2 separate regions of the Homo sapiens genome follow, and region 2 is linked to region 1. Evidence: fine-mapped expression QTL. Tissue or cell type: whole blood. Region 1 holds a variant in brackets; the other region holds the start of a gene. All regions are shown on one strand. Distances are from middle to middle.

Evidence for each region. PIP is the estimated chance that this variant, and not a neighbour inherited with it, causes the effect.
Region 2: it holds the start of ENDOD1, and the variant in region 1 is fine-mapped to the expression of ENDOD1 in whole blood (TOPMed, PIP above 0.99).

What each region holds. Positions count from the first base shown.
Region 1 is chr11:95,149,360-95,157,465 of GRCh38, forward strand. LNCRNA-IUR (lncRNA imatinib upregulated) reads left to right here and starts at 1,180. Exons shown (of 3, transcript NR_110303.1): 1 at 1,180-2,389. RefSeq lists enhancers at 966-1,507, 1,508-2,049, 1,650-1,779 and a silencer at 2,300-2,409. The variant T/C (reference allele first, on the strand shown) is at 4,109.
Region 2 is chr11:95,085,012-95,093,117 of GRCh38, forward strand. ENDOD1 (endonuclease domain containing 1) reads left to right here and starts at 4,835. Exons shown (of 2, transcript NM_015036.3): 1 at 4,835-5,216. The coding sequence starts at 4,917. RefSeq lists enhancers at 4,237-4,516, 4,587-4,646, 7,914-8,106 and silencers at 4,657-5,086, 7,914-8,106.

The sequences.
Region 1 (8,106 bases):
AGCCTTTTTGGAGGGTTTGGGTGGATAACGGACAATGTCAAAAACAGCATTAATTTTCAATCCTGGGTGGTGGAAAGACTATATATATGTATGTATATATGTATGTATGTATGTATGTGTATGTGTGTATGTATGTGTGTATGTATGTGTGTGTATGTATGTATGTATGTATGTATATGTATGTGTGTATGTGTGTGTGTGTATGTATGTATGTATGTGTGTATGTATGTATGTGTAATTTCTCTATGTCAGACACTGCTGGGTTTGTGCTCCCCTCTATAATCTACTGATTGTGGGACTTCACACGAGGTACAAAACATAAGTGACCTAATAAGCCCTCTAGACAGGGCTTCAGGGAGGAGCCAAGGCTGGCACATAGTCAGAGGGCAGGAAAAGTTCCACTCCCTCCGTGTGATTAGGAGGGCTGCTTTGTTTTCTTCCCAGGCAGAGACCTCAAAGAAAAGTGTGACTTGTGGCAATCATTGGAATGCTCTAACGGGAGGGAGCCCTAAGCTAAGGGGAGGGGCTGTATCAGCCCCGGGAGGGCGAGGGACAAAGGGGCATTGTTTCCCTGGAGGGCAGGCTGGGGCAAGGCTGACTCCACTGCCGGCCTGGGCGTGGGCAGGTTTGCTCCCGGGAGGAGAAGGCCTCCATCCTGGCCCACAATAGCCAACCCAAAACAGTTCTGGCAAAATTAAAAGACGCAGGAAAATGCCAGCGACCGTTTATTTTCTCCTAGGGTAGATGGGGGAGAAAGCAGCTCCTTTTTCTGGGCTGAATGGAGTCTCAGGGAGGGGGCTAGGTGACAGCATCGCCCTTTCCTCTCCGGCTATTGCGCACCTTCTGGAGCCTCGCTCAGCCTGCTCCCTCCGGCGTAATACGCCAATGCTGCTACCCACAACGCACAGACCAGAAACCAGGATAGACAGAAGCCTAGAATGGCCTGGCATCGAGCAGGCCCAGCGCAAACGCAAGGTCTCTTCCTCTCCTTTCGGTGAACCCCACGCCCAGTCCCGAGAGAGAGAGCGGATGCTCATTTCCGAAAGCTGGCAATCCTGCAGTGGCCACTGGAAAAATACATATACGTGTGTGTGTGTGTGTGTGTGTGTGTGTGTGTGTGTGTGCGCGCGCGCGCACACAGTGCATATCGTGCCCATCTACAAGGAAACCTGGAGGCTCCACAAACAACTTTGAGTCCCGGGAGGGCGGAGGTGGAGAGAGATTCTCCGCTTGGATAAGGGCGGCTGGATAGCCGAGTACTCTCTTTTGGGGCTGTTGGCCGTCTCCGGAGTCTCGGGAGCGCCTTGATGTCCCTTCCCAGGGCTCGGGTTCCTTTGAGAGAATCAAGAGGAAGGTGTTTTTCACTAGGACTCGCGGTGGGCCCCACCTGCCTACCGTGGCCGGCCGGGAGCTATTACAGCAGGGTCTGCCCGTCCGACGACGGCGGCTCCAATCTGGGGTCCCGCCGGCGCCGACCCCTCAGCTCTCTCCCGATACCTGCTGGCCTCTCTCATCTTTGGTGGCACTCGCCGCCACGGGGACGGTGAGATCAAAGAGGTAGACCTAGGCCAGGAGGGACTGCCAGGGCTCCTTCCCGCGGGCCAGCCTCTCGTCCTTCCTCCCGGGACGGGGCTCTTTCCCTTTCTCCGGATGCGGGCCTTTGAGAGTCAGCGACGCCTTAGACTCCTCCCAGAAAAATGCACCCTCATCTACCCAATTCTGCCCTACCCTTTGGAGCTCCTGGACCCTCTAACCGCTCGGTGGGGTCAGAGCCCACCCCCGGAAGGGCCGCTGGTCGGGGACTGGTTCGCCCTCTCCTGGCCTCCTCGGACCAGTGCGCGGGGAGGATCCCGCTAACGCCGGGCGCCTGCAGACCTTGAGCGGCCTCGCCCTGGTGACCTCCCCGGGAAAGGCTGGGCGGTGCTTCCACAATGAGGGCCACCTGTTAATTTGCACGAGAAAGTGCTGCCGAGGGCCCACACGTGCGAATCCACCTGTGGAGTGCGTCCCCTCTCTGGGGCCAAGGCCTAGGGGAGGCCGAAGCGGAGAAGTTGCCTGAAGACTGGGAAGTAAGAGTAGGGGCGTCGGAGGAATCGAAGTTGCAGTGACATCAGGCTCGGACAGCCGGCGGACTCCTCGCAAGGTGATCGGATACTTCCGAGAGCCCCACAGTCCTCCTGGGCCTTTGCCCTCGCGTCTGGGATGCGCTCGGGCGCCCCCAGTCTGCGATGCGTTCGTACCTCCAGTAGGGTGACGTTTTCGCCGGGCCCCTCTGCGAACAGTCTCCGCCCTCCTCCACTGTGAGATATTTCACAGTTTCACCCGCAGAGGGCAACCTTATTCCAAGTTCCCGAGCGCCCTAGGCCTCTTTCTCCTCCCTGCCTAACTGGTGAGGTGGGACTTCAATGCCTTTTAGGTTTACAGTCTTTTCCTCCCCACGGCTTCTCTTTCCTCCCCGTCTCAGGCACTGGGCATTTCCAGTCGATCCAGCAGGTCTGGCTTCTCTCACATATGCAGTAAGGGTTAGGGGAGAAGGTCCCAGCTCCTCTTGTCTCTAGCAGAGTGTAAACTGGCTCTGCTGAGGAGGTGGCTGTGCTTTTATTCCTTCTCCTGAGAACTGTTTATATATTAAGGAGCTTCACAGCCTCCAACATAAGGAAAGCAGGTAGGAACTGATCATATAACGCTTTGTAAATGTTTTAGACTTTGGCTTTAATGGGAAAGAAATGGGGAGCCATTCGTGGGTTTTTGAGCAGCAGGTGGACATTGCTTTTCATAATGACCACGCCAGCTGCTGTTTGGAGAATAGACTGTAGGGGTCACTGCGCAAATTGGAGGCCGCGATCCAGGTGAGAACCAGGTGAAACAGAGCTCGGGCCATGGAGTGGCGCTGGAGGTAAGGAGAAACACTCAGACTCTGGGTATGTTTTTTGAAAGTAGGATAAAAGGCCGGGCGCGGTGGCTCACGCCTGTAATCCCAGCACTTTGGGAGGCCAAGGTGAGCGGATCAAGAGGTCAGGAGATCGAGACCATCCTGGCTAACACGGTGAAACCCCGTCTCTACTAAAAAAAAAAAAAAAAAAAAATTAGCAGGGAGTGGTGGCAGGTGCCCGTAGTCCCAGCTACTCGGGAGGCTGTGGCAGGAGAATGGTGTGAACCTGGGAGGCAGAGCTTGCAGTGAGCCGAGATGGCGCCACGGCACTCCAGCCTGGGCGACAGAGCGAGACTCTGTCTCAGTCAATCAATCAATCAATAAAAATACAAAACATTAGCTGGGTGTGATGGTGTGCACCCTTAATCCCACCTACTCGGGAGGCTGAGGCAAGAGAATAGCGTGAACCCAGGAGGCAGAGGTTTCAGTGAGCCGAGATTGCGCCATTGCACTCCAACCGGGGCGAAGATTTACATATATATAAGATTTTCTGTCTGATTGTTTTTTTGGGTATGAGAAAAAGACAGGAATCAGGGATGACTCCAAGCAGCTGGAAAAACGGAGATGCTGCTGGCTGAGATTGGAAGATGCTGGGGTAGAGGGATAAGACAGCTTAATGTTATATATTTTAGGTTTGAGGTGTTCATTAGAAAAACAAGTGGAGAGATTGATTGGGCAGACACACAGGTCTGGAGAGGGCTGGGCTGGAGATAGAAATATGGGTTGCCATGATACAGGCATGGGACTGAAAGCCCCATCAGTCCCTTGGAGAGATCATCAGAGAGTGAGTAGAGACATAGCAGGGCGAAGCCCTGAGCCCCGGTTCCCCCAGCATGTACCTGCAGTCTGTTTCCTCTTCTCAACTACAATTCCCATGGTCTTGTCTTGTTCACAGAACCTGCTCAAGGAGCATCTATTAAATGAAGGAACCCAACTTTCATCACATGTAAAATAAACATCATTATAATCCTACCTCATAAGGTTGTTGTCAGAAAAAGTTAAACGTCGTAATGAAAGTGAAACTGCGTTATGATTGGTAGATGCCTGCTATATTTTAAAATGTAGGCTTCATTATCTCATTCTGTACAGCTTGTATTACTTGATTGTATCTTCACAGTTTCTGATGCATGCAAGGCAGACACTCTCGTTCTCACTTTATTGACGAGGAAAGTAGGA[T/C]TGGTGAGACAAAATAAGTCCCTGAAGCTGCATATCTAATGGTAACACCAGTGGCTGACCTGTTTGAGCACATCTGCGGCAGGCACTGTGTTAATGATTTTGCATGTGTTATCTGGCAACAACACAGCGAGGTGGGGGTTATTATCTTCACTTGCACATGAGGAAACTGAAGCATAGAGAGGGTGGTTAACTTAGCCAAGGTCCCATAGTGAGTGGTTGGAAGAGTCTGGGCCATGAAGCAGACCTGCCCATCCTGATTCAATGTTCTTTTTGCAGCCTGATAGCTCCTCTTCTTCATCCCCCTACTAGACTCCTGCCAGGGCCAAGCCTCACCACTCCTTCCCTTGACATTGGCAACATTCCTCTCTCCTTAACGTTTCTCTCCTACCAAGCCTGCTTGCTGCAGGATACAAGAGTTCAGTCACTCCTTGGGAACAACCTGCAGGTCAAAACATTTTGGCTTATTGCTTCCCCTTTCTGGAAAGTCCTTTCCCTTCCTCTCTGCCTTATGAACTCCTATGTGTTCTTCCAAACCCTGGTGAACTCCTATGTGGTTTTCCAAGTCCAATTAATATGTCACCTCTGTTGTGAAGCTTTCCCTGCTTGCACCAGACAAGAGGCATGACTTAGATCATGTGACACTTTGTTTATAGGTCTATCAAAACAAACTGACAATTTCCTGTGGGTTTGACTGATGCCCCTGTAATATTGTGATTTTTCTCTCAGGTTCTTATATTTTCATGTCTTTTTATCCAACATGCTGTTTGCTTCGTGAATACATAAATGAATGACCCATTTACAATCACTATCAAAGCAAATTTATGGATATCAAATATTCTTCTAGAGATGAGGAAATAGGCTAAAAGGAGTGATTTGCCTAAAGTCACTCAACTGATTAAATACTGGAGCTTTGCTGGGTATGATTATGCGTGCCTATAATCCCAGCTACTCAGGAAGCTAAGGTGGGGGCAGAGGGGGTGGGTGGCAATGACCGCTTGAGCTCAACAGTTTGAAGCCAGTCTGGCTAGCATAGTGAGACTCTGCCTCAAATAAATAAACATAAATAAATAACATAAATATTGCAGCATGAACTCAAGAGAGGTGAGGAGATTTTGTCTGGTGAAACTCAAGATTTCACATGCCTATTGCTTCCCTCTCTGGCATCTAGGGTCCTGGAACCCTCCTCCAAATGCTCCTGCAGGTGGCAACAGAGGCCAAGGAAAGGTGAAGCATTCTGGCAGAAGTTCTGGAGACAGATGAGAAGCTGAGCTCCCTGAGGGCAGGGGCAAGGTGACTTGAAGAAAGCCAGGCCAGAGGGAGCATTTTATGCATCCATCATTTGTAATCCAGAAAGAAAAGGTTTAGACAATTTTAGTGTAACCATTAGTCATAAAATTGACACTGAAGAAAGGAAAAAGCAATTGAAATAAAAGGACAGTAAATAACAAACTATCTTACAGGAAAAGCTACACCATGTGCCCCAAGACACCGAGCTAGAAAGTAGCAGGGGTAGTCAGTATCAGGGCCCATCGCCTCATGTTATCTGCACAGGGGGTCTCTGTCTGATGTTTGGGCACAGAGAAACAAAGTCCAGGTATAGTGCATTAGACAGGACCCAGAGGGTGTTTATGCGTGGACTGATGGCCACCTCGAGGGTCAGAGCTTCTGGCTTATTGTGTCTCCAACTCTGTCCTAATACACATTTTTACCAATGGCTTGCTGGAAAAACAGAGGAAAGGCCCGTGAATTTGCCAAGGAGAGGAAGCTCTGAGTGTTCGCGAGTGCCCATGTGGAGAACAGGGAATTGTACAAGTTCGAGCTGTGTGGGCCAATAGGGAAATGGAACAAAGGGACATTTTACCTTTGTGTTCAAAATAATTAGACAAGGACAGCATGGAAGAGACACGGCTTTAGTAATAGTGTGTGTTGAAAAGAATGGGGCTGGGACATTTATTACAACAACCGACATTTGTGCAGCATTTATGAGGCATTTTCATTACTCCTTATGACACATTAGAAGTGGTAATGGGGAAACCAAGGCTGGGAGTATCTTGTGTAATTAAGCAGCAGAGCTGTAGTGTGAATTGTGTCTCTGTAACCCTGGGGTTACTTCTCTTCTTTTGTTCCCCATCTCTAACCAAGCTGCATGCTCCGCTCGTTCTTTTTTTGTGAATGTCTCTCACCTCCAATGCAGCCATCCATCCTGTTAAAGGAGTGGATTATCCATGTCTTTCTGAGACTATTGTACAACCTCCTCATTTAATCTCATTTCTCTTTCCTCCCATTAATTTTATATATGCCACATGAGCCGGATTACCAGATTTAGCAAAAAGCAAAAACAAAACGCCAAGATACTCAGTTACATTGTTACATTTGAATTTTAAAAATGAATAATTTTTATTATATGGGACATATATTAAAAATTATTTGTTGTTTATCTGAAATTCAAATTTAACTGTGCATTCTGTATTTTATATGGCAACCCTGATAATCATGAAATACCATTTCCATCATTCCAAAAATATCCATTAGTTCCCTGTTACCTGAAGGACAGGGGCCTCAATCTCGAATTTTTACAGGTAGGTAACATAAACATACAAATTAAGTGACTGGGTAAGTGGAGCCTGAAGCTAAATTCAAAATTGAGGAGCAAATGTTCCCTGACCCCAGACATTCCAGTTCAGACTTTAAACATATATAATCAACTCCAATAAAAGCAAAAAAGAAACACACACACACACACACACACACACACTCACACTCACACATCCATAGCCATCAGTGAGTCTGGCTTCTAATCTGAAACCTGGGCTAAACCAAACCACTTGGCCTGGAATTGGAGGCCCCTGATTGGCCTTTCTGCCCTTCACTCTCACCACTCTCCACCATGGGCCCTCCCATCTCTCCTCCACCAGCTCATCATGGATGGCCTCCCTAACCCATAGCCGTCTTCTTACCATGCCAGTCTCACAGGCCACTCAAGTCCACAGTGATCTTTCCCTTTCCATGGTCAATTTTGGCTCCTCTCTGTCCCAGGGACACGTTTAGCGGTCACATCATTTTTCTCTCCAACACCCGAAAGGGAATACAGGAAGTGACTTTGAGAGGCCCTTACCATATGCCAAGTCCCCTAAAAAGATCTTTGCTTATTTTTGTTCCCTCTCTCCTTAGTGAGATGGTGAAGTACTCAAGGGTAACAACCCTGTCTCATACGATTCCAAATGGTATATTGAGCTTTGCTATAACATCCATGCTCAATATATACTTTCTTACTGACAGGTCCAAGAGTGTACAAACTCATGAACTCAATGACCGCAGACTGGAAGTAAAATCACAAACCAGTGCTTCCCCCACCCCCACCCTTCCTTGGTACACCCCTGTCACCTCCCAATTCTGGCTTCAAGCATTTTTCAAGTCTGAGGCTTTAGCCCAAATTTAAGCTTTGGCTTAAATAACGTCTATTTTTTTTTTTTCCAGAGCTGATAAGAACTTACATTTAAAAGATGGTTCTTTTTTTGGTCTCAGTCCTGCTGGGTAGTTGTGCCTTGTTAGAAAATTATCCATAGCACTTTCAAAGTCCTCCTCATGAGCATGTTGAACTGAGCCAGACTTGGAGCTTTGAATGGAATGCCATTTAATCTTGGCAAAGGTCCACCTTTTGTTTCTAAGGAGGGAAAAAGCCTAAGGAACATGGGTGACTTAGGGACCGTTTGCACTTAGACCTGATCTGCTGGGGAAAGGTTCGGAATCCTGGAAATACACAAATTAGACACTGAGCTGGGAAAAAGAAAGAGACAAGCACTGGCCAGGCAACCTTCAGTTTTGCTAACGCCAAAGATTTTAAAAATATCATCCCCTTCTTAGGATTCCTTGGCCTGCCTAGCTATGTTCTGGCTGAGATGTGCTGAGCCGGGCTGGGCTGCCGGCTCCGGGACTGGTTTGTAGCCAGCTGTGCCTTCAAAGAGCTCTCTCTTCAAGACTTCCTCCAACTCTAGATT
Region 2 (8,106 bases), 64 kb before region 1:
TCCACCATTCCCATTGTCTTTCCAGAGCTTCTCCGCCTAAATTATACTTCTCTGCAACACAACACACAGTACTTCCCTTATCAGAGCATTTCTCATGCTGTATTGTAATTGCTTGTCTGTCTGTCCTCCGTACCATACTTCAAGTTCTGTGATGCCAAGGTCTGTGTCAGTCTTGCACTGTAATGAAGATGGGTATAGCATGAACTCAATGTTACAGAACTCACTAGCTGCATGAAGATTTCTCTGCTTTGCTCTGCCCTAGTCTAGGGCAAAGCCACTTGCAAATAATTAGCTAGCTTGTGTTTTCTCTTCTGGTTGCCCACATGACACTGAGAGGTGCTGGCCTGAGTGCCAGGAGAGCAGGAACTAGGCTAAACTTTGCTTCCCTTAAATACCCAGCATCTAGTGCCATTGCTGGCTCATGGTAGATGTTCAAAAAACATTCTGAGGATGAATGAATGAATTAGAGCAATGAAGACCCAAATGAAGTTTCATAAAGAAAGTTTCTTTCATTCATCTACTCACTCACTGTATTAGATGCTTACTCTATAGTAGGCACTATGTTCATGACTAAGGGGAAAGGTAGCAGTTACGAAACGGGGTTACTGGCTTAATAGGCATAATTAGAAGGGGCTCTTAACCTCATAGAGGGGAGGAGGGAGTAAAGTTGAGGACATGCTTGTCAGGAAGGTGAGTGATTGAGGAAGTGATGGTCAGCTAGACTATTGGGAAAAAAAAAAAAGCTAGATGAAATGAGTGAAGGGATGAGAATGGGTGGTGAGAATTCCAGGACAAGGGAAGTAGTTTATGATGCAAAGTTTCAAAGACTAGAGAGAGCATCAGGCTGAGTTCAGTGGCTCAAATCTGTAATCCCAGCACTTTGGAAGGCCAAGGCAGATGGATCGCTTGAGCTCAGGAGTTCCAGACCAGCCTGGGCAATATAGCAAAACCCTGTCTTTACAAACAATACAAAAATTAGCTGATGTGGTGGCACACGCTTGTAGCTGCAGCTACTAAGGAGGGTGAGGTGAGATGATCAATTGAACCCATGACATTGAGGCTGCAGTGAGTTGTGACTGCACCATTGCACTCCAGCCTGGGTGACAGAGAGACCCTGTCTCAAAAACAAAACAAAAGAGAGAACACTGTGCATTCATGGAAATATAAGAAGCTGAGCGTGTGGGCAAGGTGGGAGTGGAGAGAGATGAGGCCTGAGAGGGAAAGGCCAGGTCTCTGGGGTCATGGAAGTCAGCTAGTATGTCAGGCTGCATCCCAAGGTAAATGGAGAGTGATTAAGTGCTGTAAGGGTAGGGTGACATCATCAGATTTATGTTAGGAAGTCATCCCAGCTGGAGAGTGGATTAGAAGGGATGACGGGATAAAAACTGGGCATGACAAATGAGGATGGCTTGGTCAAAGGTGTGATGGTAGAGATGCAATTATCATCAGAGCAGTGAGGCAGGGGAAAGAAGTGTCTAGTTGGGCTCATATTTTTAAATAACTTTGGACAGAACCAACCAAGCCACAGAAGTGCATGTCAAATGTTTTATTCCACATCAACCATTACTTTTCATCCTCAAGCCTTTGCTGAAGGCTATGGAACCCAGCTTTGGCTGGGTCTGAGTGCAGAGACCTAAGAGGATCTGGTTTGAAACCTCTTTCCCTGTGAGAAGAGAGTCAGTGACCAAATGTAGAGACAGCAGTGAATTATTGATGGACCTACATGTTTTACACATACAGATGCTGCTAAAGACAGTTTTCCCCTAAAATCAGCAGTTAGCAAATGTTTTAATTAGATCAAGGCATTCCTACCTTGTAGGTTGTTCCAGAATCTTGGGGTGAGAACATTTGTAATTTGCAAAAGTAATATTTTATCTGTGGAAGGCAAGCACATGGAAGAAAAATCTATTGTCTTGTACTATAAACTAAAGAAAATAAACAAAATCATCCTGGCTGTGGGATGTACAAATGTTCAGTGTTATATGTGTGTCAGTCACTGATAGAGGGCTGGGGAAAAAACTAAAGTCTGCCACAGGGACTGAGTGGCAGAGATATTTATGCTTATCAGAGGTGGCGGGCAGGCATCAAGAAATTTTGAGAAAGTGAATTAAAGTCTTATAAATACTTTAGTCATAAAGGCCAATGATGATTGTATTATACTTTCTGCATTTGTTAAAATACAACATAATCATATTTGGCATCTAATCACTCCAGATTTTGTGGTAGCCACTGGGATCCACCAACCACCTTTGTCCCTAGGAGCACATGATTTAATAAAGAAGACAGATACAGGGACTATTAACACTCTACCATGATAAGTATCATAACAGATAAATGTTTAAAGAACTCAGAGAAGAGAGGGATGGATTTCTAGTTGTTCAACTGTGTTTATATATCTTTATGGTAGACATCATAAGTCAACATTGGGGAACCCTATATTCAACCTTATAAAATAATGTAAATATTTTTAAAATCCTGTAAAACCTATAATCCTCCCAGCATCCCAGGAGCAGCATTGTCCCTGTGGGAGGACTTGATTGAAGCCTACAAGGATGAGATGACTGAGATACTAGTACCAGATGATCAGGGTCATCATCCAGATCAAAGGGGACTTCAAGTCTAGCCTCTTCTGTGACATCACACTAAATGTGTCCCCTCCTTTTTTTAAAAAAACTAAGATACAAACTTTGGTTTCATTTCTGGGACCAAACATAGTCAACATTTTCCGGAATTAAAACCTGTAAGAAATTTGTTCTTAAGTTCCAATGTATAATCTCTTGAAGAGCTTCCTTCTTTATGGGCTCACCTTACAGATGCGCTGTGAGTTAAAAGAAAAGGCCAGGCTTGGGAAGCAGAGAGACCTGTTTCAAATCTGTCTTAGGACTCACTGGCTGTGCCAGCTTAGGCCAGAATCAACAGGCTCTGGTCTCAGTCCCTGTAGTGGCACACTGGGGAAACAGATGACATCGTAAGATGAGCACAGGCCCTGGCCCTGGGTAGCTGCCTTGACCCTATCTCTGCTGCCACCATCCTACCATCCTGGTCCAAGCTACCATCTCTTATCTGGATTGTGGCAATTATGGGGTGTTTTTCTTTTCTTTTCCTTTTCTTTTTTGAGACAAAGTCTGGCTCTGTTGCCCAGGCTGGAATGCAGTGGCACAATTTTGGCTCACTGCAACCTCCGCCTCCTGGGTTCAAGCGATTCTCCTGCCTCAGCCTCCCAAGCAGCTGGGATTACAGGTGCCCGCCACCACACCCAGCTAATTTTTTTGTGTTTTTAGTAGAGACGGGTTTCACCAAGTTGGCCAGGCTGGTCTCAAACTCCCGACCTCAGGTGATCCGCCTGCCTCAGCCTCCCAAAGTGCTGGGGTTACAGGTGTGAGCCACCCATTTATTCTGTGCCACTTCAATCTACCAGTCTCTTCCCTGATAGCAAAAAGAATCGAGTCACCACCTTTAAAAGATGAAAATCCTCAACATGATTTACAATATTTTTTCCAAACTGCAGGTCATGAGCCATTAGTGGCTCATAGAAACAATTTAGTGGGTCAACACCAGCACTTTTTTAAAAAAGTGAAGTAGAACAGAAATATGAAATTGCAATGCCAATCATAAGCATAAGAATTATTTCATCAAACTTTTCTCATTATGGGCCTTCTCAAAAAGTGTTTGAAGGCCTCTGGCCTATAATAACCTGAGTAATATGACCCCTGCCTCCTCCTTTAGCCCCACTTCCCATCATCCCCCACGCGGTTCTCCGCGCTTTACCCACACTAGCCTTCCTTAAATTCCTCCAATACATCATGTTCCCTTCTGTGGGAGACCACTTAGCACATGGTTTTCCTCCTTGCCTAGTTAATGTCATCCTCCAGGTCTCAGCTCAGATGCCACTTCTTCAGGCAAACCTTCCCGGATTACATCCTGAACCCCTGTAGCTGTCAGGGTCTCACAGATCTGTGTTCAGTTTTTAGTTATCCCTTTAATAGCATGTTTCCTCGGTTAATGACAAACTTTCCCACTAGGCTGTCTTTGTGACCGCAGGAGCCCTGCTCTTGTTTACCCCTGTGGTAATCCAGTGCCTATCTCAGGCTGGCACCTAGGCATTCAGAGGGATAAATGAAGGAAAGAATTGGCCAACCTGTTGACCAATGACGTTGGCTGGCCTCCTTCCTTGCTTGGTATCGGTTTTGTTTCTAACACTTGCACCAAGAAAACCACACAGGGTTATACTGTCTGCCTAGTTTAGGAACTTCCTTTAACAGTATTTCTTTACTCTCTGAGTTTCTGGTGAGCTAAAAAAACATAACAAAAAACAAAAAACTCCATCAAAATTGTATGCGTGTGCTGGTCGTTGAGTACTTCGGTGGAGAGTGGGAGACGCATCTTCATGAAATTTCAGAGGGGAACTCTGCCCATCCACTCCGAACCAGCCGCAGCTCCACGAGCATCTCACGCCACCCCTCTGCATCACCAGGGCGGCCGTGGGGCGCGCGCGATCAGCAGGCTTCTTGGCGCCCAGTCCATGCGACTATCTCTTCCCAGCCCCGGGACTAGGCCCGCCCCACTCGGATTCTCCACTCTTGGTAGCGCGCGTCCCCCGGACTGCTGAGACCAGGCGGCGCGGAGGCAGGTGACCCGCGTCTCCAGTCCCGGGCGCAGCCCAGGGTACGTTGTCAGCATCGCGGAGCGCGGCCCTGGGCCTCTGCAGCCATCTTCAGGGAGGGAGGCGCGGCCTCCCGACGCGGACCCGCCCCCGCCGCCCGGGCCGCCCCGCCCGGCTCCGCAGAGCGCCGCGCCTAGGTTGCGACTTCCCTTCCCTACCCTGCTCGGCTGCGTAGTGCGCTCCCCGCCCAGCCTGCAGAGCTCGCGCCGCGGCAGCCCAGCCGCTCGGCCCCGCCGCGCTCGCAGAGGCCGCCATGGGCACCGCGCGCTGGCTCGCGCTGGGCAGCCTCTTCGCCCTGGCTGGGCTGCTGGAAGGCCGGCTCGTGGGCGAGGAGGAAGCCGGCTTTGGCGAATGTGACAAGTTCTTCTACGCCGGGACCCCGCCTGCGGGGCTGGCGGCCGATTCCCACGTGAAGATCTGTCAGCGCGCGGAGGGTGCTGAGCGCTTCGCCACCCTCTACAGCACCCGGGACCGCATCCCCGTGTACTCCGCGTTCCGCGCCCCGCGCCCTGCGCCCGGCGGCGCCGAGCAGCGATGGCTGGTGGAGCCGCAGGTAAGCGAAGTGGTTCCCGAGCCGGGCTGCGGGCGCCGGAGACCGTGCCGCTGGACATGCCCCCAGTTGCAGCTACCGCGAGGGGCGGGCCGGGAACAGCAATCCCTACGCCTTCGGTGCCTTGGGCCAAGAAACCCGGGTTCCAGGTCCACCCTGTTGCGTCCCCGGAGTTAGCCTGCCTCGCCCCTGTCGAGCTACAATAAGAGCCTGGCGATCTGCGAGCCTTCACTTCATGAGCTGCAGGGCGGGAGGTCCCCTGTGGGAGGAGGTTCTCCCTGCATTTCTGAGCAGACATCCGCAGTGTTTCATTCCTGAATGGTGAAGAGCTTGATACAGAGACCCTGGAGACCGTTCAGATCCGCAGAAAGCCTAGGCTGGGCGCTCACAGGCCTTCGTGCAACTTATTGCCATAGCACTCATTTGGAGGTGGGTAGGTGGGCATTTTCATCCCCATTTTACAGAAGAGGAGATAAACCCAGGGGGTGAAGAGACATATGGAAGACTACCCAGTTAGTAAGATGGGGCAGGTCTCTGTCTAGAAATTCACTGCCTTTTCTACTAAGTAAAGCTTCTCTTCTGCAGAGCTCATCCTAGCCTGAAAATCCTTCCTCTACCACGGCGTTGAGTAAATTCGATCTGCGGTTGTGTTGAATTAGAACAATGAAATAAAGATACAGATTTTTAGAAACGCAATGGGGTAGTTAAAAATGATAGGGAAACATTGACTACCTCCAACTGATGGAAAGATAAGCCAGTTTTTCCTGACTCCTCATATCTATATTATCATACCACTAGGAAATCGTGTCACCTCTCATGGTGTTCTGTCCCGTCTGGTAAAGGTGACCAAACACTTGAGAAGCCCTCAGAGTCTTCCGAACCTGCTGGCCTGCTCTTAATACCTCTCCTCAGTTGGCCTCCTCTCTAGAACACCCTGCCAGACTCCCCTTTGCCCTCTCACCAGCCTCCCACCCCTGCCCAGGCTGCTGGGGGAAGAACTGACCCAACGCTCTCCCTTTCCTGACGGCCACAGCTGCCCAGGACCACACCAGTGGACAGGAGGCTGGCTTTCAGGTGCTTTATTCAGAGCCTGTGGGTTGTAATCTCATTCAGATATTTCTAGCTCTGAGGTCTTGGCCAGGTCTCAAACAATCTGCACCTAGTTTTCTTATCTTCCTCACATCCTTCCACCTACCTCAACTGTTGATAACACTTGTCGAGATCAGGCATGTGAAAAAGACGTTGTCAGTTGCACACACAAGACACATTTAAATCCAAAATTAGTTTTCCACCAGCTGCACCCCTAGAGCTCACAGGGTGTTCCCCACCTCTCATCTTGCATTGTGATTGTGTGCCTGCGAAGAAAACAAATGAGCTAGTTCTTTCCCCTTGATCTCATGGACAGCTTGGGGAGACAGAACATACGTCTGAGGAAATCATGGGAATGGATGCTAAACAAATTTCAGTTAAATTCAGAACACATTTAGTGACTCCTGCTGTGTGCCAGATATTTGGGACCAAGAGATCTGAGTGCAGTTCTGGAACAAAGGCTACCTGATCTGCAGGTGGAGTTTGCTGGGTGGAGAGGTGGTGTAGTATCTGATTAGAGCCATGCTATGTGGGTTCATATCCTAGTTGCTCCACTGACTAGCTATGAACTTGGGCAGGTTAAATTGGAGATAATAGCATAGGGTGGTGTGAAGATTTAATGAGTTACCATATATAAAGTTCTCAGGTGTGTGACACATGAGTACTAAGTACTAGCTGTTGCTATGACCTAAGCAAAAAACCATAATTTAATAAAGGTGAACAAAGTCCTATTAGATTTAATCTGTCTTTGAGGTGATGGAAGCAAGCCTTAGGGTCAGGATGACATTTCTGCTGTGTGTGGAAAGATAAGGCAGAGTTTAGAAGGGAGGCAAGGAGGAGGACATTTCAAGCAGAGGGAACAAACATCATGAGTGAGAAAGGCATGGCAGATTCAGGGATTTGTGCGTGAAGAAGTTGGAACAGGTAAACTAATACAAATAGATGAATGCACTCAATTGCTCAGAATAAAAAGGAATCATGGAAGGGAGGGATCAGGTGGGGAGGAGCCACCAAGGAAGGCTTAGGGAGGCAGAGCCATTTATGCAGCTAGGGAAGGAGTGAGTCGTAAAGGAGCATAGTTTGACAGAAAGAAGTACAGGGAACCAGGTAACATGGAGACCCTGGGTGAGATAATGAGGAAGGGGACTGTGGAGATTAAAGAAGATGGGAAGGGAGGGTGGAAATAGTTACAAATGGCAGCTTGAGAGGTAAGATGTACAGCGGTTCTGAAGAGTACAAGGGGCCTGAGTTCCTGCTGTGCTGAGAGGTCAGAATGGTCACTGTGGCTGAGCACTGCAGGATGCTTTTCCCTGCAAGGTGGCTGGCCTCCCACATCCACCCGCTCGACCTCAAGTCAAGTCAGCCAGGATCCAGAGAGTATTGGGAGAGAGGGAGGGAGGAGGAGGTGTGAGGTGCAGCTGGGCCTGGAGTGCACTGCAGCAAACCTGCCCCCACTGTTGCCTGCTCCCTGAGGCCCTGCCTCCCAGCCAAGATCCCCACTGCAGAAAGATGCTCAGGGCTCAATGTGTACCCTTGGCGGCTTCCAAGCATTTTATAATGCTGAGTCTCCTTGTACCCACATCACCTTTTTATGAGGTCAGTGTTACCAAGAGGACCCGCACACAGGGGAGGAAGAGGCAGGAGACCAAAGGAACTCAGTGCTTGCCTCCAGTGATGAGTCAGGCAGGGCAGCAGTGACACTGAATTCCCAAAGCCCAGTTCGGCAGCTTTTGAGTCCACACTGCAGTTTCCCTTTGAAAAGAATCTCCTAAGTCAAAGATCACAGAAACTTAGTCACTCTTGT